Linked DNA regions of Homo sapiens. The protein of the gene in region 4 purifies or fractionates together with the protein of the main gene of each other region. This does not show direct contact. Each region holds a gene or a part of one and is shown on either strand. Other genes may lie near its edges.

Region 1 (3,500 bases), on a different chromosome or scaffold from region 4:
TGCTGTACTCACCTAGGTATTTGTGGACTGTAGTTAACTAAAGGTAACTGAAACTCGAGAAGCACAACCTCAGATAAGAGGGACTACTGTATTTAATATGTTTACATTTCTGTTTATGTTTACATTTCCCCAATTTTTGTCCCAAGAATTTTTTGTTTTTTCAAATCAGGATTCAGAGATTCAGAAGTTCATGTATCACCTGTGATTTTTATGTCTCTCTGTAAGCTTGCCATTTTGAACACTCGAATATATTACTGAAGTTAGCTTTGCAAACATTTCGTGCCTGATAAATACATCTGATGGATGTTTATAAACCAGTTTGAAAATTTACTTATTTCAAGGAAATAAACTTCCAAAGCAAATAGTAAATAATAATAGTTAACACTTACTGAGCTCTTAGGAATCAAAATGTTGACATTATTTGATTTAAGTTATTCTTAAAAACCGTTCTATGAGACAGTCTTTCTCAACCAGCGTTTCTCATTTGAACCACAGAACACAAAATCATTTAAATGACTGTTTTTCTAATGTTCTAAGGATGGTAGTATTCAAGATACATATGAGAAAATTTAATCTTTACAAACAATGGACAGATAACCTTAGAGGGCATTTGAGCTTATAAGTGGGGAAGTTAAATTGCTTAATTATATAATAAGTATTTGCAGTTAATTTGAATAGGTATTATTACTTATTATAGAAATATACCCTCGATGAGCATTTTATTTACTGGTAGCAATATTTTTTCCTCTCCCATTCCCACTTCCAACTTTATCCAGCCAAATTCTGAATTTGTTGAAATGCAAGTGATTTATACATTCTAAAGCCAATTCATTTTAATGATACAAATTATTCTTAAAAATCCAGTTGCTGCCTGTTTTTGCAAGTATTACTGTAACTACACTGTATCTTTTTCTTCCCAGAAACTTACAGCCTATTTAGATCTTAACCTGGATAAGTGCTATGTGATCCCTCTGAACACTTCCATTGTTATGCCACCCAGAAACCTACTGGAGTTACTTATTAACATCAAGGTATAAGAATGTTGACTGTTTTTGATGAATGATGCCTTCATAGTGTTCTGGAATTCCCTGTTGAGAAATTAGCCCTATAGGAGCCCATTTTATCAGACTGTAGTTAAGAATTTTACAAAGAGGAACTAATACTCATGGTTTTTGTTTTTAATGTTTTATATCTTGAAATTGAAATAAATTTCTCAAATAATGTTTTAAGTTTTCCTAAAGAGCCAGGGAGTAAATATTAGCCAACTACTTAATTCTGGTGCCATAGACAATACGTAAAACAGATGAACATGACTATATTCCAAAAAAAATTCTACTTATAAAAACAAGCCGGGGGCGGTGGCTCATGCCTGTAATCCCAGGACTTTGGGAGACCTAGGTGGGAGGATTGCTTGAGGCCAGGAATTTGAGACCAGCCTGGACAACATAGTGAGAACATAAACAAACAGATGGTGGGTAGTAGTTTGGCAACCTGTTCCATACCATAATGTGTAAGAATTTTGTCTTGTTTCTCTAGTCTACTCAGTGTATGTTCTGAGATAGTCATGTCATGTATTCTTTTCTGAATGTAGGCTGGAACCTATTTGCCTCAGTCCTATCTGATTCATGAGCACATGGTTATTACTGATCGCATTGAAAACATTGATCACCTGGGTTTCTTTATTTATCGACTGTGTCATGACAAGGAAACTTACAAACTGCAACGCAGAGAAACTATTAAAGGTAATACTTTTTAAATATTAAAGTGTTGGGCAGAAAAGTTCATTGCATTAAACTAGATTTAGGTGAAGCCTAGTCATTGTTACCAATATACCTGCCATGAGTGAGGTAATATTGTGTCGTTATATAATATTTCCAGGTTTCTATAGAATTATCTTAATTCCATTTAGTAAGTCCACTCTTTTCAGGTGGAGAGAAAAGGTCAATGTGAAATGTCATTGCCTTGAGATGATGGTACCTCATTTTCCATCTAGTTAGTCACCCTGTCCAACTTCCCATCCTACCACTTTGGTTGAGCCATACTGAAAGGGTTTTTATTATCCAGAGGGTGTCTTGGGACCAGCTCTTCAGCTGTGTTTTCAGGGATCTGGATTCTAAGCAGGCTGTTTGCCTTTTGGATCATATTGGGAATAATCACTGTCAGGGTAGTTGGAAAGGAATTTGGGTGAAGAACTAAGAGCATTGATACAACTAATGTTGTAGCTTTGCCAAATCATTTAACTTTTATTTTCTCACCTGAAATATAAGAATTACAGTATCTCCCCATTTCCTTTTAAGAGCATTGTGAAAATAAAAAGAAAGTACATGTGGCAGCTGTGGAAAGTAAGAAGTGCCATTCAGATACACTGTGGTGTGATTTCTTTGGAATTGTGTCACCCAGTAAAAGTGCTTTCCTGGCTTTTTGCTAGCATTTTAAATAATACTGTTCTCTCATCTCCGGCGGTTGAGTCATCTGAAACCAGCTTGATTTCTTTTTTTTTTTTTTTTCCAACTTTTATTTTAGATTCAGGGGTACATGTGCAGGTTTGTTACAAAGGGTATATTATCTGATGTGAGGTTTGGGGTACAGATGATCCCATCACTCAGGTAGTGAGCAAAGTACCCAATAGGTAGTTTTTCTTTTCTTTTCTTTTTTTTATTATACTTTAAGTTCTGAGTTACATGTGTACAATATGCAGGTTTGTTACATAGGTATACAGGTGCCATGGTGGTTTGCTGCACCCATCAACCTGTCACCAAATTAGGTATTTCTCCTAATGTTATCCCTCCCCTAGGCCCCCACCTCCCGACAGGCCCCAGTGTGTGATGTTCCCCTCTCTGTGTCCATGTGTTCTTATTGTTCACCTCCCACTTATGAGTGAGAAGATGCAGTGTTTGGTTTTCTGATCTTGTGATAGTTTGCTGAGAATGATGGTTTCCAGCTTCATCCACGTCCCTGCAAAGGACATGAACTCATCCTTTTTTATGGCTGCATAAAATTCCATGGTGCATATGTGCCACATTTTCTTAATCCAGTCTATCTTTGATGGACATTTGGGTTGGTTCCAAGTTTGCTATTGTGAGTAGTGCCACAGTAAACGTACATGTGCATGTGTCTTTATAGCAGCATGATTTATAATCCTTTGTGTATATGCCCAGTAATGGGATTGCTGGGTCAAATGGTATTTCTGGTTCTAGATCCTTGAGGAATTGCCACACTCTCTTCCACAATGGTTGAACTAATTTACACTCCCACCAACAGTGTAAAAGCGTTCCCCAATAGGTAGTTTTTCAACCCTTACCTCCTCCCTCCCTCCCTCCCTTCCTTATAGTCCTCAGTATGTATCATTCCCATCTTTATGTCAGTGAGTTCCCAGTGTTTAGCTCCTATTTATAAGTGAGAGCATTGTAAGGTAGGTATTTGGTTTTCTGTTTCTGTGTTAATTCATTTATGATAATGGCCTCCAGCTGTATCCATACTGCTGCAAAGGACATGATTTC
Region 2 (3,500 bases), on a different chromosome or scaffold from region 4:
CACTGCTGTCCTGATTGGGACGATGGAGGCCTGGAGGTGTCTGGATGGTAGAAGTCTTTGAGGCACAGAAAGCTGCCTTAGCAGGGAGGTGTAAGGGTTCCTGGGAGGAAGGTGGAGAGCATGATCCTGAGGAACAGGGAGTCTTGCATCACGGCAATGGAGGGACTCTGATTCTAAGGGATAAGGATGCCTGAGGTTTTTCCAGAGAGCTATGGGGTTCCATGGGCAGGCTCTGAGCCTGTGCCCGCCACTAACCCCACTGAAGCCCGTCCCTTCAGGCTGATGCTGGTGGAGGAGGAGCTGCGCCGGGACCACCCCGCCATGGCTGAGCCGCTGCCAGAACCCAAGAAGAGGCTGCTCGACGCTCAGGTGGAAATTACAATGTCATTTATCTTCTCCGTGTCCCATCCCCATCCATCCCACTGTCTTTCGTGCACTCACTACACCAGCCACCTAGCCCCATCACCATCTGTCTCTCATAGTCTGCTGTTTGTCCACTGGCTGCTCCTGGCAGCCCCCTAGTGACCCCATCTTCATCCCATCGTCTGTGCCTTTGTCACTCCTGGCAGCGTCAGCCCAACTCCTGTGCCTTCCCATCCAGTCTTCCCACTCCTCTCTGCATCTCAGGACCTTCTCTACCAGAACCTTGGTCTTTCTGCCCCTAGACCCCACCTAGTTCCAAGAACCCCTGCCCCTTCTTTGCTCACTCCTATTCAAGCCACGTTGTTCAGCTTCCTCTGCGCTCTTGGGCCAGAGGGCTAGAAGCTGCCGTTTTCTGGAATAGAGCACAGGGCAGTATGATCTGTAGTTTCTCCAGGCCCTGGCCGGTACCCTGAAAACTTGGGGACCCATCACCTCTGTTCTCTTGGCTCCCTAATTTTCCTGTCTCCTTGGCAGCTCCTGCATAGCTTCCTCTTCCTGACTCTTCAGATCTTGAAGGCCTTCCATCCTGTAACCTCCCTTTGCCCTCAGTATTTAAGTCCAGCCTCCCTCTGGCCTCCCTCCCACTCTGGCCCTCAGACCTTCCCAGCTGCCTGCTGCCCAGCCTCTCTTCTCACAAGCCAGCTTCTAGGACCTCCCTTCTGCACCCTTACCCCTTGCTTTCCCAAAATTCTGCTCATTTTCCTACCCATACTCCTCTTTGCTCTGACTGCTAGGCTCCCCCCGCCTGCCATCCCCCCACCAAGGCTCCTGACCCCATGACCCCACTCTCTCCCACTGCAGCTCCTCATCAGGTAATTCTCCTGGTTCCGCTTTGGCCACGGGCGGAGGACACAGGGGGAGGTGACTCCGGACCACTGCAGGTTGGTCGTGAAGCCCACTCCCTCCAACACCTCCGGAGCCTCTCCCCTCTCACTGCTGCCCTCCACACCCAGAGAACCTCCACAGACTCCAGCCCTCCGACACCTGCACAGATCCATCTCCCAAGACACCACCCAAAGAGAGCATTTGCTGCTGCTTCCCAGAACTGTCCAACAATACCTTAGCAACACCAAGAGTTGGGCCCTAGATGGGCCCAGCACATTCACAGGTCACACCCACTTCCCTGCAAAACCCACCCCCTCCCAGCCTCCTCCTGACTCTAAGCCCTCCTCTTCCTCTACCTCTCCAGTGTATGTCTGTCACCCCCCATTTCACCAGAGCGTCCTTAGGGGCTGGGGGTGGGTTTGTTAATGGGGTGGAGGCAATGATGGGTTGGAGGATCTTGGCTATAGGGGCTGTGCTGACTGCAGCAGGTAGGTTGGGTTTCCCTCTTCCTTCCCTAATCTTGGTTCTCTACCCTCCTTTCCACTCCTCACCTGATTCTCTCTCTTCCTCCTCCTTATATCTGTGAGGCAGAAGGCATCTGAAGCTCATATTAGCCCCCATTGGGTGGGAATTAGGAGTGGGTAGTTAACTCAGGGAGACTTGAGATACCCTGGAAAAAATGCTATTGAGATGTCCTGACATTAGGCAGGGTGGATGGAACAAGAAGGAGCAAGAAAGGAACCTCAGGCAGATGTTAGGACATGGACTTGATCATGTGGCCTGGGAGTTTAGAAATGGGGAGAGACATCCTCCTAGATCAGATCGTGGGCTCAGTAGGCATGTTGATTCCCAGGGAGAGGTGCCAGGAACAGCATGGTAAAGAATGTACTCTTCACAGCTCACATCCCCAGGTTGCTGATGCCACTCACTCCCCCTCTCCTGCCATCGAGTGGCCTTGCCGGACACATCACCCTACCTAAAAAGCCAGTAAATGAGAACCTGTCAGCTATAGCCATCATTTCTGAGATGCGATTTTCTTTGGGATTGAGCTGCAGTGGGCAGTGGCTCCTTACACTGTAATTTTAATTCTCTGCCTGCCCAGCCTCTCTGTCAAAGTAGCTGGTGATCTATAAAGATGCTAAAAGGCACCAGGGGACTTTGCCATTTAAAGGACTCCTGCAGTGAATTCTTTTGTAAAATGAATAATGGCACCCTAATTTATCCACTTTCTAAATTTGGGTCCATGGGGGTGTCCAGGGCATGCTTATGTGCTGTCACCAGCAGACAAACAGAGGGAATGGAATCTGGGGGTTCCTTCCCTGCTCTCCCGCCATACTCAGGATACCCTACCATAAGTGATTTCCTCTCACTGACTTGCAGAAAATGTGTGAGATACCCAGCAAGCTAAGAAGGCAGTTTTGCTGGGTATCTCATACCCAAGGCTGGGGTTTGGGTGATCTGAGAGGTTAGCTCCTTGATCCTAGGATGGAAGGGAGAGCTTATATAGAAGCTTTTACTTGGAAGGTTTTGTATCCTAAGGTCAGACATAGCTATATTACCAAGCCTAAATGCCATGTGGCCCAGGAAATAATTTGGACATTTGTTCTAAACCACTTGTGGTAGGTATTGGTCTCTCTGCAACTCAGCCATTAATTAGAAATTAGTTTTGAGCCTGAATTTTAAAAAGCCAAGTGTTGCCCCCAGCCCACACACACACACACGGACATGTACAGTACAAACCCCAGATAATTACAACAGCCAAAGAGAGAAGGAAGTGAATTTCCCAACCAGAAGCGTAGGGAAATTCAGATGGCTTTCTTTTCTCCCAGCAGAGGAACAGAAGGCGGAGCTAAGGGCAGGAACCAGGAGTTGGTCAAGGAGCTATAGGAGGTGATGAGAGTAGAACCAGGGGTAGGAGCTGGTCTGGTACCCCTCACCCTCTAATTGGGAGCCCAGGGAGAAGGACTGAAAAGAAGATGGGAGTGGAAAAGAATAAAGCCAGTTTCTGCTTCCCAGGGATGCAGAGATTGGGGCATGCTGTGTCTGCAGAAGCTCCTAGTCATTTCCGCCATAATTGTGAGAGAGAGGGGCAGCCCTCCCACAAGATTTTTCCCTTCCCATATCACTTCCCTGAATCCCCTTCCTTTCCCCCCAGTACAGTTAAACCTCTCTCTAATTTGGAATGTTATATTTGAGAAGATGGCCACTGTGAATAAGTGACAAACGGAATGACAGTGTCTATTTAATGAAAT
Region 3 (3,500 bases), on a different chromosome or scaffold from region 4:
GAGCAGGAGCCTCTTAAGGGCTGGCACTGGTCTCAGCCTAATGGCTGAGGCGGTACCCTGGCTTCATATGCATCTCACTGCTCCCACTGCAGGGGGGCAGGGAAGGGGGGTCTGGGAGCCCTTCATGTGTGGGGGCCGAGCTGGGGGCCCCCATGGCCATCCTGGACCTCGCTGCTCCAGAGTTTAATAAAGGTAGCACATGCTTATTGCTAGAGCCTTTGCAGACAATGGCGGTCCTCCGTGTGTTCAGCTCTCCTGGCGGCCTGGCCCTGTCCACCACAGGACGGCACACCCTCCGGAGTCCTGCCTCCCATGCCTGGCCTGAGGCATGGCCACAAGCCAGTGGCTCTGTGGGCCAGGGCCACCTGTCCTGCTGGGGTCCCAGATTCTCCTACTTAGAGCAGCTCCGTCTGCCCCCTATTTAGGCCGTTCACACCTCACCACCTTCCCTCTGCCTCAAAACCTGATGCTGAGGTCCATTTTCCAGATGAGGAAACTGAAGTACCAGGAGGCCCTGTCCAGCCCCTCCTCACCAGACACACCCAACTCCCACAGGGGCCCACGGTCCCCAACACTCACTCTGAGGCTGGGCCACGCACCAGGAGCTGCACCAGGATGCCCGTCACTGCCACCAGAATGGGATAGTGGTCCACGCTCTCTAGGCCTGAGGGGAAGGGGAGGAAAGAGATGAGCCACCCACATGCTCCTGCTTCAAGGGCTCCAGGCCTGCCCACTGCCCTCTCTACAGAAGGGTGAGCCGAGACTGCAGAGCACCAAGTCTGGCTGTCCGGGGGCAGAATGTGGAATCAGGCCTCACTGTTCCTAGCAGAGGAACCGAGGCCTGTAGTGTGTTGGGGTGCAGGGCATCTAGGTCCTCACCAGGCAGCCGTAGGGTGACCACACGATCAAACAGGTTCCTCTCAGCTGTCACCCGGTTCAGCACCTGGTTTAGCAGCTGTGAGGGGAGCAGGAGTCCATTGGTGGATGGGGAGCGTCATCAATGGGGCATCCCCAGGGTCCCACCCTTGTTGCCCAGATGGCCACACCTGTGCAAGACGCCGCAGCAGCATCTCAGAGGTAGGCCGGGTCCAGTCAAGGAATATCTCAGGCACCAGTGTGATAGTCATCTCCAAGACACGCAGCAGGCTGACCGAGAGGTCAAAGCAGGTGGCACATACCTTGAGCTGCCGGCTGTCCACAAAGTTCCGCTCCAGGCGCTCAGCAGCCTGCTGGATCTGAGCCACCAACACGTGGGCATGCAGTGGTCAGCACCTGGCTCTAGCCCAGGACCAGGCCTCATCCCTTGCACCACCCTAACCCACGAGGCCCCACCACAGCCCACCTCTTGGATCATGCCAATGAATTCAGAGAAGGCCCAGTTGAGCTGATTGAGGACGCTGTTGAGGAAGCTGGGTGCCACATCAGGACCCTGCTGTAGGAGGTCCGCCATGTGCTGCTGCAGCAGGGTGGAAGGGCAGGGCTCTGCAGGGGGACAGGAGGCGGCATCATCAGGGACTCCACTGCAGTGGCCTCTGCCTGTTTGCCTCTGTCCTCGCCCATTGAGGCTTTGGTATAAGGACAGAAAGATGGCTCCCTAGGAATGCTCAGGTCATGAAAGCAGGGGACAGAGGACAGCTGCCTTGGAGTTAGTTGGGACAGAATCTGTCCCCTCCTTCTACTAGGCAAGCCCCAGGCTGCAGCTGTGTCCAGCCCTGACACCACACCATCCACTCCAGGTCCAGAGCAGCCACACAGCCACAGCCTGACCCTCAGCAAGTTCTGGGTCGCACACCCTTCAGATAGGGTCAGACCTAAACAGGGCGGCTTAGATGCTTCCCCACCGGCACCAAGGCCAGCTCCTCCAAGAGCCTACTCTAAGCCCTGCTGCAAACCTGCTGTCCTCTACTGTCCTCTGCTGCCCTTGGCCTGGCCTTGGCATATGGCCGAGGTGGTGGGCACCAAGTCTGGGCTGGCAGGCAGCAGTAACCGGAGCCCTCAGCTGCAACGGGCCTGGCGCACCTCCCCACCAGCTTGATACAAATCAATAGTTCCCGCAGCAGCAGGACAGGCCTGGCCCCACTGCCGCTCTCCACTTGCAGCTCAGTTCCGCCCTGGACGCAGGACCACGGCAATTGGCAAGGACTTGCTGTGTGACTTAGCAGAAGACACTCAGCCTCTCTGGGGACACCCTTTGGACCAAAACACTGCCCACAAGGGCAGAAACAGACTACATGAGCCAAGAAGAGCCACCATGAAGGGTGAGGACAGTGTGTGGCACACCTGGCACTCTGCAAGGGCCAGGCCTAGGGGAAAGTCCTTGCTGGACCCTGGAGAGAGGGCACAGCCTCTGCTCCCAACTAAATGTCCCTTCCTCCAGGAACTCTCGTGAATACCCTCTGGGGACCTGGCCAACCTCCAATCTGTGCTCCCAGTGGACTCAGGTGTCCAAGGCCTAAGCCAAGGCCAGGGTCTGCCACCAGCAGATAGCAAAAAAGAAGCAGAAGGACATGGTGCTGGGACAAGGCTGGAGGTCAGGGAGCTAGCTTAAAGGGCAAGGGACAGAGTATTCAGTCTGCATGAGCTGTAGCAGGCCAGGAACATGGTGCCGCCTCTCACCATGACCCACATAGAGCATCCAGGCCCAAAGGGCACATGTAGGTAAGACTGTGGGCAAGGCTGGGGAGGGGGAGTCCCATCCCGAGTATCCTTGGGCTGGAAGGAAGCAGGGAAAGTGGAAACCCCAGGGGACACGTAGGGAGTCTGGGACCCAATGGGGGAACCAGAGAGGGGCTGGAAGAAGTGGAGAGTCTGAAAGAACCCATGGGTAGGAGGTAAGCGCCCCCGCCTGCCTTGCCCAGGACTCGCCCAACCCAGATACTCACTCTGGAGGCTGGGCAAATTGGCGTCCTCAAGTTTGGTTTTCAGCAGATGTGGCAGCCGTGTATAGCGGTACCCGAAGCCACAGCCCTGTGGAGGTGGGGGTCAGTGCCCAGGTCAATGGGACAGCGCACCCTCTCCCTCCAGCCAGCCTCAGCCACTTCCCCTCGAGTCAGGCTTACCCTCCAGAGCCGCACCAGGATCCAGTTGGTCTGGGCCCAGGGCCGCTGCTCATAGGGCGCCAGGAGGTTCCTCACCATGGCGATACGCCTGTGAGGGCAAGGAGGGGAGAGACGGGGTGAGGCTGGGCATGGTGCTTGTGGCCAGGGTGTGTGCCCCCCAGGCCCCACTCACTGCTCCTCGGGGATTCGCTCCACAGCCCGCAGGGAGTGTGGGTAGCACACGTAGCTGGCCAGGGCCTGCATCAGTGAGTCTCGGATGTCTGCGGGGACACACCGTGCCTCAGCAGGGGCTTGGCATGAGCCCTGGACCCATACTTCATGCCCACCTGGCCACATTTTTCATAGAAGAAAGCCGACCAGAGGTGCCATCCCATCCCCCTCCCCCTGTACCCTCTGTAGGGGCCCCTCACCAGTGCCCACAATGCGTGCGTCGGCAAAGTG
Region 4 (3,500 bases):
CTCCATGAAAAACTGGACTGACTCAGGACCCAGGTATCCTGCCTCCTGTGTCCAGCACACCTGTGGGCACGGCCTGTCAAAGGATGCAACTGGGAGCCAGGCCTGGTGCCCGGGGAATTTGCCACGCCTGCCACTGTGGTGATGGGTGAGGCCAGTGGCGCAAGCCCGTGTGACTGGCAGACCCACCATGGCACTGTCCCAAGGGTCTGGCCTGAGCACCTCACTTTGCCTTGCAGCTTCTCAGCCCCAAGCGCTCTGCCCACGGCCATGCCTCATCAAGGGAGCCTGACCTCACTCATCTGCTGAGATGTCCCCTCTGCCCAGAACCACACATGGGGCTGAACTTGTGGCAACCACAGGGTAAGGGGCCAGAACCCTGGAGAGCACACAGATACACACTGGGAACAGGGTGGACGCAGCCGCCTGCGTACACACCTGCCTGCCCGTCCGTCATTCGTTTCCCCCAGGCACACCATCAACACCTAGGCACAGTTCCAGGGAGACCCCTGATGCGAGGAGGGGAGGGAGGCAAGCCCGCCTCCCCAGCTGCCTGAGGAAAGCCAAAGATCCTCTCTCTCAGAACACTCAGGCTCCTAGCACCATGGCCACTGCCTAGAGCTGTCCAGGTTCCCTGGCTGGGGCACAGGTCCAAAGCTAGAACCATTGTTGCTCTCCGCTGAACCTAAAGAATAAAGCTTGCCTTAGGACTGGGTGAAGCAAGGAGTGACCTCGGAGGCCAGTGCTCCCAAGTGGAGAGGCTGAGCCCTTGTCTCCCAGCATCACCCTCCCCTAGCCCCAGGGTACCCACAACTTCGTGACTCCTTGTTTGCCCCCACTCCCCCATCCCCAGGGTCAAAGGCCTCTCTCTTAAGGGCAGACTTGAAATCTGTGCTCAGGGAATCCTGCTGGGCAAGACAGCCCCTCCCTTGCCTGCCACGGCCTCCACCGCTGCCACTCCTGGCTGTGGCCCCCTTCGTGTGCTAGACCTTCTGTCCTGGCTGGGCCTCAGCACACTGCCCTGCTGCTTCACCCGGCTCCCCACCCTCTCCAGCAACTCCACTCTCAAGCCCCCACCGCTTCACACTGGGTCCAGGTCTCCCTCGGGCTGCGCCCATGCCACTGTGAAAGAATCCCAACACCTGCTTTTACGTCGTCCCCTTTCCACCAGGACCTGGGATTATCCCTTCTAAACAGCTCTTAACCCCATCTCTGCCAGATTTGCAGACTCAAGATGGGGTTGCAGGGGTGGCTGCTGTTCCTGGACCTATATGCTGGTAGGAGACTGGTGCTGGCAGGAGCTTCATGGATTTGCCAAACTATCACATGGATTGATCATGGATGCCCGGCGGAGCCTCACACTCTCTTGCCCTGTGGCCTCCACACCCTGAGTACTTCAGGCATGGGACATGACACCTGCACTCCACACCCTGTTCCCTCTGCCCCCACCTTGCTGGAGCTGCCTCAGTTATCGTGCAGCAGGGCCAGGCCTGCGCCTGGTTCCCTTTCTGGCTGCAGACTGTCCTGGACCTCACGAGTCCTCTTGCTTCCAGGAACCCACGACAGCAGGAACAAGCAGAGGAAAACCCCCGGCCCCACTTACTGTCTGGTTATCCTCGTAGAGTTTCAGGTCGTAGCCGCTGAGCTCCACACAGAAGATGATGGCTGTGACGCCCTCGAAGCAGTGGATCCACTTTTTGCGCTCTGACCTCTGCCCCCCCACGTCCACCATCTTGAAGGTGAGCTCCTTGAAGGTGAACTTGTTCTCCACAATGCCCGTGGTCATGTCCCGGGAGCGCAGGATGTCCTCGACAGTGGGGATATAGTCAGCTGCGGCGATGCGCTCCAGGTCGTTCAGGTAGTAGGCCGCGTTGTCCTCCAGGTGGTACTCGCTGGAGCGGCTGAAGCAGGCCTGTGCCCCTGGGTCGGCCCAGAGCCGTCGCATGACACCCAGCAGCTCGGGTGTGATCTCGCCCTTGCTCTCAGCGGGGCCCGTCAGCGCAAAGAGCTGCACAGCGTCGTAGGCGCGGTCGGGGTTGTGGAAGTCGATCCTGAGGGCGGCCAGGGCCCGGATGATGCGGGTCAGCGAGTCGATGGCATTGTAGATGATGAGGGGCTTGTACTCCTTGCAGGCCTCCAGGTTGAAGCCGCCGCTGTGGATGATCTTCATCTGTTTGACGATGGTGCTCTTGCCTGAGTTGCTGGTGCCCAGCAGGAGCAGCTTGATTTCGCGGCGTTGCCGCTGGCTCTCTGAGCGCAGGTGGCGGTCAATTCTCCGGGACCGCCGGGCTGCTTCTTTTTCCTCTGAGCTTTGCCGACATCCCATGGTCTGGCAGCAGCGGGCCCAGACAAGGAGCACGGGATGGGGCACCTCTCCCTCTTGCCACAGGGGACACTGAGACCAGGCAGACAAGAGCCCAGCTGCCCTGGAGGCACTCAGTGCCAGCAGGGGGGTGAGGCCGAGCCACACTGCAGCCCCTGCCCCAGCGCCTCTTCTCCAGCCGGCATGGCGCTCTGTGCAGCGGGCGGTGGCCGCCCCTCCCCACTAGTGACACTCCACCTCCCTAGTTGGCAAAGTGGCCTGATTTGCCGTAGTCATTCCCTGTCCTCGGCGACGGTGGGAAGCCGTCCGCTTGTGTTTGCCTCGGCTGCTGCCGTCTGGTTGCTGGTTGCTGTGGCGATGTTGCTGAGTGGCTGGAGGGTTGGAGGGCCGGTCGCTGGTGTGCTCCCTGCAGCCCCCCGCCTCCGGCTCCCACTGTGCATCCAGCCCTTCACCTGCCAAACACAGAGAAAAGCGTGAGCCTCCTCCCCGCAGCCCCACCTCAGGCTGGACAGTGAAAGGGAGCTCTTCTGAAAGCAAAGCAGCAGAGACTGGCCTTGGAAAATGAGCCGGCAACAATCCATCCAACCCCCTCTCCTCCATGGGGCGCTGTAGGGCCCACACCATGGTGTAACACATATGTCTGCTGTTGCCTGGACAGTCCACCTGAAGCCAGGTGCATGAGGGAGAGGAGGGTGTGTGCGAGGCCTCTGCCCACCCAGCCCCCATGCTGGACTCACTTCTACCGCATCCAGTTAGGATTCAATAAGGTCACCCTGTTGTGATGCCCCCTGGGGCCCTTCTCCCAGACAGCACTGATAGAGCTCAGCCTTGCCCTGTTTTACACGGGTGGCCAGGCCTCGGCCCAGCCCTGGGATAACTGAGCGCCTCCCTGACTCTCATTACCCCCGCAGGAGCTGGGTCACTTCTGATCACAGGGAGGAAAAGCACCAGGAGGGAGACCTGGCCCCTGCTTTCCCTTGAGGGCACTCTGATGGGCCAGCCCAGGAGCCAGCAGATAGGCAGGGACCAGAGCAAGGTGGAGGCTTCAGGCTGTGGGAGCACCGTGAGGTGCCTAAGCACAGTGGGCAGGGGCTGCCTCACTCCTGCAGAAGGAGGTAGAGGGGGGCTTGGGCTGAGACCAAGGAGCTGGGGGCTGCACGTGGTGCTGCGGGGAAATCCA
Region 5 (3,500 bases), on a different chromosome or scaffold from region 4:
GGTCCATCAGTTTGCGAAGAAGGTGTGGCATGAGGCATGGCTGCCACTCACACTAGCCCATGGAGGGCCTGGGTCCTGAGCGCCCCCTCCCTCATTTGCTCTGCTCTGAGTACAGCTTCCCAGCTCACCATCAGATCTATTCTGAGCTTGTGCATTTGGCCTAGGCAAGACTGGCTGGCTGCTTGGGGCAGAGGGAGGGGCCCTGGGGACAAAAGGAGCTGGGTACAGGGGTTGCTCTAGCAGGCACAGCACAGACCCCGGAGAAAGCCCACAACAATAGCATTTCCTCTCCTCCCTGGTTCCAGGCCTTTAAGAAGTGGCACCAACGCCTGGCAGCCAGGAGCCCAAGGAGAGGAGCTGCCAGTAGCCCAAGACCCTGGAGCAAGCCAGGCCCCAAGGGCCCCGAGAGTGGACAGGAAGCCGCCAGAGCACCGCGGGGTTGGGGGCTTGGGGCAGAGCATGGGGCCCAGCTGCAGCTGTGACTTGTTCTCATAGAATAAAAAACAGAACTGAACTTAGCCTTCCCAGGGAAGGAACCATGCCCCACACATCCAGGGAGTGATGACAGAGGGGACAGCTTGAAGAGCTCTGAAGGACAATAAAACCCACTCCTCAGTCCTAGCTGCTGCTTTCAGTCTCTCCTAGCGGCTGCCCCTCTGCCCCAGCCAGTGAGGCCAGGAAGGGAGTAAAGAGGACATCCCACAATTGCGTCCACCCCCTTGGCCATCAGGCTGCTCTTCCACTACACGAAACAGCCCATCTGCACCTGCCAGTCACTGCCCCCAGGCCCTGGGGCTTGCAGGTGACTCGTGGGGAGCCAGGCCAGGCAGATAACCTCTGGGACAGGACGAGGGGATGAGGAAGGCAGCTGGCAGGACAAGGGCCTACCTGAAAAATACACCAGGAAGCTGGGCTGCTGCACAGGCCCAGGCAGATCTGGGGCCCCTGTGCTGGCAAATCTCATCTTAGCCTCTGACAGGGAACGGGGCAGCATCAGGCCTCCACAGCCAGGCAAAAGGGGAAGGCCACGAGCCCCACCAAGCACAAGGGTTCAGACTGCCTTCAACCCTTAAGGGGCACTTTTTCTCTCAAGGCTCAGAATAGACAACTGTGCCAAAAAGCAGCATGGTAGGTGTCAGCCCAATGCCCATCCAGGGGGCTGGTGCCATGGACGGCTAAGTGGGCAGGCAGGGCAGTGGTGTGCCCCTTCAGTCACAAGTAGGTGGGGCCCAGCTGCCCACCTCTAGGAGGTGGAAGGGTACAGCACTTTGCCACATCTCTTCTACGATGCCACCAGTGCCTGATGCCCTTGCGTGTTTTGCCTGTACTGCACGGGCTCCAAGTGTAAGTTCACTGGGAGTCCCAGGCTGGCTCTGGAGGCTGCCTTGGTTCGAGGGCTTAGTTGGCAACAACCACTCTCCTCGCCTTCTCAGGAGGTGCCACCCACTGTGGTCCTCTGCAGGACGCAAGTGCTCCCCACCAAAAGAGCACAGACTCCTGGCTAGAGCAGAGAGTACTAGGTTCCCATGTGGGGCCGACTCAGGTCCAGGAAGAGCCTGGAAGCCTCACTCCAGTCTAGCTGCCATTGTCAGGTGGGGGAGTGGAGGCCGGGGTGGGAGAGACACGAAGGAGAGTGGAGTTCCCAAGAGAAGCAGCACTGTGGAGGAGGAAGGCGGGACAGGAGTGGCTCCAACGCAGGGCGTCAGGACGCAGGGTCATGGAGCCTCCGTTTCTCTCGCATTCTGGGTGGGCCTGTTGAGAAGCTCCAATGTGTCTTCCACCACCTGCCAGAGGCAGTTGTCCAGTGGGAAGTCATTGTCCACCAGGTTGACCAGGAAGTAGTTGTCGTGGATGTACTGGATGATGGTGCGGGACGGGGACTCCTCCTCATACAGCTTTCCCCACCGCTCAATCCACAGGGCAAAGGCCTCGTCCTACACACACATACCCCCGCACACACGCACACATGCACACACACACAGAGGCAAGATTAACAGGGCTCTCCAAGGGCTCTGCTCAACAGGACATTTCCCGGAATAGAACAAGGCCCACTGCCAGTATCACTTCCCACCCCTGCCCAGAAATAAACACCCTGCATCAGCAGTGACATGGGTGAGTCAGAGCTGGGTGTGCCCTGAAGGCTGGGTCCAGTGTGGCCTTCAGCACACGCTTGGGACTTGGTCCCAATCCCTCCCCACGGTTTTCCAGGTGGGCGGGGCAAGCTTGCCCCCGGCTCCTTTACCTTCCAGAACATGAAGCTGACGGGATCCACTACGGTGGGCTGGATGATCTCTCGCCCAGGGAAGATGCCCCAAGTGACAGCATTCGGCTGCAGTTCAGGGGCATTGGTGATGTTTTCACCCTGAGGGGATGTGGGGTGGGGGTAAGACCTGGGCCAAGAACAACTGGAGTCCCACTGCCTGGACAGCCTTGACTCAATGAGGCTGTCTGGGCTCAATACCCTCTGCCTGCGCCTCCACTCCCGGCCTCCACTCTCCCTGCGCCTCCACTCCCCTCTCCCTGTGCCTCCGCTCCTGGCCTCCTCTGCCTGCATCTGTGAATGATATCTCTCCCCACACAAGCCTGAACCTAGAGGCGTCCTGGCCACTTCCCCTCTCCTCCTTGAGCACCCCCTGCTCACTCTCTGATCCATTCCCTCTTGTCTAGCCCACCTCCAGGAGTGTGTTTGGCTTGGGTCACTCCAGGGGTCTCTTCACTGGCCTCCCCGGCTCTAGCCGTCCCCAATCTCTCTCATCCGTATGACTATCCACTGTGATTTGCCTAAAATAAAGCAGGAACCAAGCCACCCCACTGCTGGAGAAAGGCTTCCCTTGCATTGAGGGAAAACTCAAATTCCAGCAGGACAACCATGATCTCTGCGGGCCTGGCCCCTGCTTAACACTCCCGCCTCCTCCTGCTCATGTTCCCCGTTTCCCCAGATGGTGCAGCTCACTGCCTCTGCCTGTCCTCTGCCCTGTCCCAGGAATACCCTTCTCTCCTGTTGGCCAACTCCTCTTTGTCCTCAGTGATTCCCACAGATGACCCTCTGAGAAGCCTTCCCTGGCCTCCCAGGTGAGATATCCCTCCTCTGGACCCGACAGCATCCTCTCCTGAACTTGATTTTCCCACTTACACTGGCTGGTGGTCACACATTGATCTGCCTCCCTCACTCTAGGCTGGGAGCTCCTTAAGAGCAGGGCCCCAGTTCTGCCTGTATCTCTCTGTCTTGCACAATGCCTAGCCCAGGCTAGGTGCTGGGTGTTTGCTCAACGAAGGGCCTGGTACTCTGTGGGAACCCTGGGGCCTGGCCTACCTTCACATTGACAAGGTGGTAATTAACCCGGAGCTCGTACTTCTTCAGCACTTGCAGAAGTGCTTCCGCTGTCTCGCGGGAAGTGAAAAACTCTAAGTAGGCCTGTGGGAGAGACAGGTGCCTGTCACCAACCCCAGCCCTGCCAGACGCCCTTTCGCAGACACCTAAGGTATCAGGACTACTGGCA
Region 6 (3,500 bases), on a different chromosome or scaffold from region 4:
GAGGAGCCTGTACTGAGAAAGCAACCTATAATTGCTGAAGGTAAGAATAGACGGAAAACTCCAGAAAGCAAGCAGGAGAACTCAAAGTGGCAGGCTGTTTCTGTGCAAATATCCAGACACCTCCACATACTTCTGGTGGCCTAATGCTGTAAGCTATTAATAGTTCATCATGTAGCCCCTGAGGCATAATGAAAAGGTTAGCATTGGGCAGCATATTCCATGTGAATTCTGATTCACATTTGGCTATTGAAGGAGACTTGCGGAGGGCCTCCTGGAAGTGGTGAATTTGAGCCAGTCGGAAGGACGCATGGGCATTGATTTGCGCTGGGAAAGGGAGTGGAATGTATGGTGAAAAGGCAGTTTTTGTGACTGTAGCCATATGAGGATATCGACCCCACCCTGGACCTCAGAATCTTGTCAGAGCTCCCTAGGGCACTTGAAAGTGCAGCCAGGGTTGCGAACCTGTACTGACCTCTGTGCTCTAGGTATTCTCAGTAATGACAACACTAACTACCATTTCGCTTTTGGTTCTGTGTTTTTGTTCTTTTTTTTTTTTTTTTTTAATACCGAGTCTTACTCTGTCTCCCAGGATGGAGTGCAGTGGCTTGATCTTGGTTCACTGCAACCTCCGCCTCCCAGGTTCAAGCGATTCTCATGCCTCAGCCTCCTGAGTAGCTGGAATTACAGGCGCCCACCACCACACACAGTTAATTTTTGTATTTTTAGTAGAGACAGGGTTTCACCATGTTGACTAGGCTAGTCTCGAACTCCTGACCTCAAGTGATCCACCCTCCTTGGCCTCCCAAAGTACTGTGATTACAGGCGTGAGCCACTGCACCTGGCCTTTTCAGGTTTTTTTCTTTGAAACGAAGTCTCACTCTGTTGCCCAGGCTGGAGTGCAGTGGCTCGATCTCGGCTCACTGCCACCTCTGCCTCCTGAGTTAAAGCGATTCTCCTGCCTCAGCCTCCCTACCAGCTGGGATTACAGGCCTACACCACCACGCCCGGCTAATTTTTTGTATTTTTAGTAGAGACGGGGTTTTACCATGTTGACTAGGCTGGTCCCGAACTCCTGGCCTCAACTGATCCGCCCGCGTCGGCCTCCCAGAGTGCTGGGATTACAGGCGTGAGCCACCACGCCTGGCCCTAACTACCATTTAGGACTGCCCGTTTGAGCCTGATGTCACACTTGGTGTGTATTGTCTCATTTTATCTCCAATGAGTGTTATTATTCCCATTTTGCTGATGAGAAAAGCAAGGTTCAGAGAGATTAAGTGTTTTTTTTAGCATTAAGTCATGCAGGGAGCAAAAGTGCTGGAAGCCAGATTCCCTCTTGTCCATCTGCCTTCAAAGACCATGCTCCCCCCATGACCATCATGGCCTGTGTTGCTCTGCCAGGCTCCTGGGCAGCCTCTTGCTGTTTCTCAAAGCTCGGTGAGGCCCCTGGAGCAGAGGGATTGGAAAGGCTTTGTGAATGCAGGTCATCCCACTTCCCAGGACTGCGGGAGCCAAGGTAGGATGAGGAATGGGAGAGTTCTGACTCCATGCGGTAGCACTGCAGGCTCTGAGAGATCCAGCCCGCCTGCCCAACAGCTCAGAACGGAGCTGGACCTTATGAGTAGGCGTGCCCCTTAGACTCATTCAGTGGGAGGCTTAGCCAGCACAGAAAGGAAGAAACACAGGGGACAGAGGCTGATTGTTTTTTTTTTCTTTTTTAATGACAAAGAATTTTATTTATTTATTTATTTTATTTTATTTTTGCGACAGGATGTCCCTCTGTTGCCCTGGTTGGAGCACAGTGGCATGAACCCGGCTCAGTGCAGCCTTGGCCTCCCGGGCTCAAGTGATCCTCCCACCTCAACCTCCCAAGTAGCTGAGACTACAGGTGTGTGCCACCATGCCCAGCTAATTTTTGTATTTTTTTTGTAGAGATGAACTTTCGCTATGTTGCCCAGGCTATTCTTGAACTCCTGAGCTCAGGCAATTCTCCAGCCTTGGACTCCCAAAGTGTTGGGATTACAGGCAAGAGCCACCAGGCCCAGCCTCAGAAAAATTTTTTAAAATAGTTTTTATCCAACTGTAAGCATCACACATGCTCAGCAAAAGAAACTTGGGAAACAAAAATATAAAGAAGAAATCATTTCTTTATTGCATAATTGCACACTTGGAGATAACCACCAAATAGTATTTTATCTGTAGACTTTCCATCTTTTTTTCTATAAATACACATATGCACATGCCCCTAACAGATGTGGCCTAATAAGTGTAATAATAATGTATATGTTTATGCACACCAAACAGATGTGCAGTCCAAACTGCTGAATGTAAAGCAAGTACTGTTATACTCTGTTGTTAAAAATCTATTATTGGAAGGCTGGGCTCAGTCGCTCACGCCTGTAAACCCAGCACTTTGGGAGGCCAAGGCGTGTGGATCACCTGAGGTCAGGAGTTCCAGAGCAGCCTGGCCAAGATAGCGAAACCCCATCTCTGCTAAAAATACAAAAATTAGCCAGGCGTGGTGGTGGGCGCCTATAATCCCAGTTACTCGGGAGGCTGAGGCAGGAGAACTGCTTAAGCCTGGGAGGCTGAGGCTGCACTGAGCCGAGATAGTGCCACTGCACTCCAGCCTGAGCGACAGAGTGAGACTCCACCTCAAAAAAAAAAATTTTTTTTAATTGCATAGAGAGAAAGATCCACGAACTTTCTTCCTAAGGCATAATTGGGTGAAAACAAGGTATTTGGAATCAGAGCCGATTTCACAGTGAGTCTCCATGTGAAGGGCCCCTGTGTTCCGTTTTGCTTTGAAAACTCTGTCTCTCCGGGGCCTTGCTGTAACTGTCAAAATGCGTGCTCAGCATTAGCCCCGGTTTTTTTCTTGCAAAGGCTCCCTCGAGAGCTCTGTTTTCCTAAGTGAAGGAGATTGAAGCTGAGGGGAACATGTTTGGAGCCACAAGATTTCACGGAACTTTCAAAAGCCTCTCCCGCGGCTTTGGCTTTGCTGAGCACTGCTGGGCTTCATGGTGGAGCCGCAGAGCAGCCGCTTTCCTGTGTTCAGCACCGCCGCCCCCGAACTTAGCCCCTCATCACCACGTGCGGCTCCGCTGCTCTCTGAGCTTCTAGTAGGGCAGCTCTGACTTTGTAGGGCACCGCTGGAACCTAGAAGAACGGGAAAATCTTCCCTGAGCCCCAGGCTAGATGAGCCAACTCCCATGCACCCTGTTTAAAGGAGAGCTTCAAGAGTTTTCAGTCAGGTCCTGTTTATTCTTGGTTTGCACACAGTTCTAACAGGTTTTTCCATTCATAGCAGATTTGAAGTTGTGGTAGAGACTATGGAGTGATGAGCAGCAAGAGGTGATCACTGACAGCTAGGGAGGACACAGAAATGACACTGAGTACAAGCACAGCACCGAGGCCTGAGCCTGGGCGTGGGGACCTCCATTGCCACACGCCGCACCATGGGCATCCCTGTGCTGTGGGACAGTGACATGATAAGTGAGCCT
Region 7 (3,500 bases), on a different chromosome or scaffold from region 4:
GGCAGAAGGATTGCTTGAGCCAGGAGTTCAAGACCAACCTGGGCAACACAGCAAGACCCTGTCTCAAAAAAAAAAATTAATTAAAATTTTAAAACTACAATATTGACACATTTAAAATTTCTTAAATGTCTTAGGTCCTATTTCTTAGGGAGAAATTTGTTTTTTATCTCATTGGTGTTTTGGCAAAGTAAAAATTTTACTGTGACCTTCAGTCAATTTTAGGCCATAAAATAACCTATAACTTTCCTTGCAGTATTTCAAAATAACAATGTGTTGATATTTATTACTGTTTTCCCCTCTGCCTTCACATCTGTTTTATAATTGCACAATGGATAGGATGATACCATTGAAGGCTTGTTTTTGGACTAATTCTTTGCATGTATCATCCTTCATTTTCCCAGTACACGAAGGAGAGTGATTTCAGCATTAGAAGTTGGGATTTGTATAGTTCAAGGATTTTAGTATTTTTAAGGCTTTTTCATCATAGTTTTTAATTCTAGTCACCACACATCTCTAGCCCTAGCATTCTGTAACCAAGGAAACGCCCTACTTTTAGCATGGCACAGTACAAGTGTACCTTTTAAAGAAATATTCCAGGTTGAATACTCTGTGTATTCTGAGATAATATTCAAAAGAAGATCAGTGATCCTAGTGATTCAAAAAAGCCAAATTTTAACACATTAAAATTGCCTGAAAGTCTTAAGTATTTATTTTTAAAAGTCTTTATTTTTCCTAAATGATAAGCTGAAGCTGCCATTGCCATATATGGATGCATATACAGCTTAGGGAAACCAATGACTAAAATAAAATCCAACTGAAAAAATAAAGTTTAAATTTAAAAATTTCTGGCCAGGTACAGTGGCTCATGCCTGTAATCCTAGCACTTTGGGAGGCCAAGGCAGGAAGATTGCTTGAGGCCATGAGTTCAAGACCAGCCTAGGCAACATAGTGAGACCCTGTCTCTACAAAAAAAGTTTAAAAATTAGCCAGGCATGGTGGCATGCACTTTTAGTCCCAGCTACTCAGGAGGCTGAGATAGGAGGATTGCTTGAGCCCAGGAGTTCAAGGATGCAGTGAGCTATGATCATACCACTGCGCTCCAGCCTGGGCAACGGAGCGAGACACTGTCTCTTAAACAAAAAATCTGTGTTGCAAATGTATTTTTCAGGTGAGTTGACTAGCATTTATCTTAAGGAGTATCAACTACACTCAAAGCATTTAGATAGGCCAGTTTAGGTTAAGATACAAAGATGAGTAAGGTGTATCTATTGGGGGAACCAGCCCCCAATATTTCAATGTATGTTCTATTTTCCCTAAATGTCGGCCCATCTGAGAAATAGAGAAAGAGTACAAAAAGAGGAATTCTACAGCTGGGCCTCCAGGGGTGACATCACATATCGGTAGGTCCGTGATGTCCCCTGAGCCACAAAACCAGGAAGTTTTTATTAGGGATTTCAAAAGGGGAGGGAGTGTACAGGGAGTAGGTCACAAAGATCACGTGCTTTACAGGGCAATAAAGATCACAAGGCAAGGGCAAAGCAAAGATCACAAGGCAAAGGGCAAAATTAGAATTACTGATGAGGGTCTATGTTTGGCTGTGCACGTATTATCTTGATAAACACCTTAAACAACAGAAAACAGCGTTCGAGAGCAGAGAACCGGTCTGACCTCAAACTTACCAGGGCGGGATCTTTTCCGCACCCTAATAAGCCTGAGGGTACTGCAGGAGACCAGGGCGTATTTCAGTCCTTATCTCAACCGCATAAGACAGATACTCCCAGAGCGGCCATTTATAGACCTCCCCCCAGGAATGCAATTCCTTCCCCAGGGTATTACTATTTTTTTTTTTATTATACTTTAAGTTTTAGGGTACATGTACACATTGTGCAGGTTAGTTACATATGTATACATGTGCCATGCTGGTGCGCTGCACCCACTAACTCGTCATCTAGCATTAGGTATATCTCCCAATGCTATCCCTCCCCGCTCCCCCCACCCCACCACAGTCCCCAGAGTGTGATATTCCCCTTCCAGTGTCCATGTGATCTCATCGTTCAATTCCCACCTATGAGTGAGAATATGCAGTGTTTGGTTTTTGTTCTTGCGATAGTTTACTGAGAATGATGATTTCCAATTTCATCCATGTCACTACAAAGGACATGAACTCATCATTTTTTATGGCTGCATAGTATTCCATGGTGTATATGTGCCACATTTTCTTAATCCAGTCTATCATTGTTGGACATTTGGGTTGGTTCCAAGTCTTTGCTATTGTGAATAATGCCGCAATAAACATACATGTGCATGTGTCTTTATAGCAGCATGATTTATAGTCATTTGGGTATATACCCAGTAATGGGATGGCTGGGTCAAATGGAATTTCTAGTTCTAGATCCCTGAGGAATCGCCACACTGACTTCCACAATGGTGGAACTAGTTTACAGTCCCACCAACAGTGTAAAAGTGTTCCTATTTCTCCACATCCTCTCCAGCACCTGTTGTTTCCTGACTTTTTAATGATTGCCATTCTAACTGGTGTGAGATGGTATCTCATGTGGTTTTGATTTGCATTTCTCTGATGGCCAGTGATGATGAGCATTTTTTCATGTGTTTTTTGGCTGCATAAATGTCTTCTTTTGAGAAGTGTGTGTTCATGTCCTTCGCCCACTTTTTGATGGGGTTGTTTTTTTCTTGTAAATTTGTTTGAGTTCATTGTAGATTCTGGATATTAGCCCTTTGTCAGATGAGTAGGTTGCGAAAATTTTCTCCCATTTTGTAGGTTGCCTGTTCACTCTGATGGTAGTTTCTTTTGCTGTGCAGAAGCTCTTTAGTTTAATTAGATCCCATTTGTCAATTTTGTCTTTTGTTGCCATTGCTTTTGGTGTTTTGGACATGAAGTCCTTGCCCATGCCTATGTCCTGAATGGTAATGCCTAGGTTTTCTTCTAGGGTTTTTATGGTTTTAGGTCTAACATTTAAATCTTTAATCCATCTTGAATTGATTTTTGTCTAAGGTGTAAGGAAGGGATCCAGTTTCAGCTTTCTACATATGGCTAGCCAGTTTTCCCAGCACCATTTATTAAGTAGGGAATCCTTTCCCCATTGCTTGTTTTTCTCAGGTTTGTCAAAGATCAGATAGTTGTAGATATGCGGCATTATTTCTGAGGGCTCTGTTCTGTTCCAATGATCTATATCTCTGTTTTGGTACCAGTACCATGCTGTTTTGGTTACTGTAGCCTTGTAGTATAGTTTGAAGTCAGGTAGTGTGATGCCTCCAGCTTTGTTCTTTTGGCTTAGGATTGACTTGGCGATGCGGGCTCTTTCTTGGTTCCATATGAACTTTAAAGTAGTTTTTTCCAATTCTGTGAAGAAAGTCATTGGTAGCTTTATGGGGATGGCATTGAATCTGTAAATTACCTTGGGTAGTATGGCCATTTTCACGATATTGATTCTTCCTACCCATGAGCATGGAATGTTCTTCCATTTGTTTGTATCCTCTTT

The links.
Region 1: the proteins of GNAZ (region 4) and ITM2B purify together in Homo sapiens (co-immunoprecipitation; one large-scale study listed by IntAct). This does not show direct contact.
Region 2: the proteins of GNAZ (region 4) and SYNGAP1 purify together in Homo sapiens (co-immunoprecipitation; one large-scale study listed by IntAct). This does not show direct contact.
Region 3: the proteins of GNAZ (region 4) and RNF123 purify together in Homo sapiens (affinity purification with mass spectrometry; 2 studies listed by BioGRID and IntAct, with this or other methods). This does not show direct contact.
Region 5: the proteins of GNAZ (region 4) and MTHFR purify together in Homo sapiens (affinity purification with mass spectrometry; 3 studies listed by BioGRID and IntAct, with this or other methods). This does not show direct contact.
Region 6: the proteins of GNAZ (region 4) and RGS10 purify together in Homo sapiens (affinity purification with western blotting, with the first as the bait; one study listed by BioGRID). This does not show direct contact.
Region 7: the proteins of GNAZ (region 4) and RAP1GDS1 purify together in Homo sapiens (affinity purification with mass spectrometry, with the first as the bait; one large-scale study listed by BioGRID). This does not show direct contact.

Annotation. Positions count from the first base shown.
Region 1 is NC_000013.11:48,257,206-48,260,705, forward strand, and holds part of ITM2B (integral membrane protein 2B), read left to right. Parts: intron 1-920; coding exon 921-1,031; intron 1,032-1,591; coding exon 1,592-1,742; intron 1,743-3,500. UniProt on the Homo sapiens protein: Plays a regulatory role in the processing of the amyloid-beta A4 precursor protein (APP) and acts as an inhibitor of the amyloid-beta peptide aggregation and fibrils deposition. Plays a role in the induction of neurite outgrowth.
Region 2 is NC_000006.12:33,447,565-33,451,064, forward strand, and holds part of SYNGAP1 (ras/Rap GTPase-activating protein SynGAP), read left to right. Parts: intron 1-265; coding exon of another isoform or gene 266-278; coding exon 279-369; coding exon of another isoform or gene 370-372; intron 373-1,224; coding exon of another isoform or gene 1,225-1,239; exon of another isoform or gene 1,240-3,500. UniProt on the Homo sapiens protein: Major constituent of the PSD essential for postsynaptic signaling. Inhibitory regulator of the Ras-cAMP pathway.
Region 3 is NC_000003.12:49,713,557-49,717,056, reverse strand, and holds part of RNF123 (E3 ubiquitin-protein ligase RNF123), read right to left. Parts: coding exon 3,470-3,500; intron 3,320-3,469; coding exon 3,232-3,319; intron 3,148-3,231; coding exon 3,060-3,147; intron 2,968-3,059; coding exon 2,883-2,967; intron 1,483-2,882; coding exon 1,343-1,482; intron 1,236-1,342; coding exon 1,047-1,235; intron 956-1,046; coding exon 880-955; intron 665-879; coding exon 580-664; intron 229-579; exon of another isoform or gene 1-228. UniProt on the Homo sapiens protein: Catalytic subunit of the KPC complex that acts as E3 ubiquitin-protein ligase. Promotes the ubiquitination and proteasome-mediated degradation of CDKN1B which is the cyclin-dependent kinase inhibitor at the G0-G1 transition of the cell cycle.
Region 4 is NC_000022.11:23,094,519-23,098,018, reverse strand, and holds part of GNAZ (guanine nucleotide-binding protein G(z) subunit alpha), read right to left. Parts: intron 2,773-3,500; 5' UTR 2,324-2,772; coding exon 1,601-2,323; intron 1-1,600. UniProt on the Homo sapiens protein: Guanine nucleotide-binding proteins (G proteins) are involved as modulators or transducers in various transmembrane signaling systems.
Region 5 is NC_000001.11:11,788,965-11,792,464, forward strand, and holds part of MTHFR (methylenetetrahydrofolate reductase (NADPH)), read right to left. Parts: intron 3,416-3,500; coding exon 3,314-3,415; intron 2,363-3,313; coding exon 2,243-2,362; intron 1,935-2,242; coding exon 1,716-1,934; coding exon of another isoform or gene 1,576-1,715; 3' UTR 496-1,575; coding exon of another isoform or gene 306-495; 3' UTR 80-305; coding exon of another isoform or gene 1-79. Other genes in the region: uncharacterized protein C1orf167, read left to right, coding at 1-79. UniProt on the Homo sapiens protein: Catalyzes the conversion of 5,10-methylenetetrahydrofolate to 5-methyltetrahydrofolate, a cosubstrate for homocysteine remethylation to methionine. Represents a key regulatory connection between the folate and methionine cycles.
Region 6 is NC_000010.11:119,511,720-119,515,219, reverse strand, and holds part of RGS10 (regulator of G-protein signaling 10), read left to right. Parts: intron 1-3,500. UniProt on the Homo sapiens protein: Regulates G protein-coupled receptor signaling cascades, including signaling downstream of the muscarinic acetylcholine receptor CHRM2.
Region 7 is NC_000004.12:98,411,384-98,414,883, forward strand, and holds part of RAP1GDS1 (rap1 GTPase-GDP dissociation stimulator 1), read left to right. Parts: intron 1-3,500. UniProt on the Homo sapiens protein: Acts as a GEF (guanine nucleotide exchange factor) for the Rho family of small GTP-binding proteins (G proteins) that stimulates the dissociation of GDP to enable subsequent binding of GTP.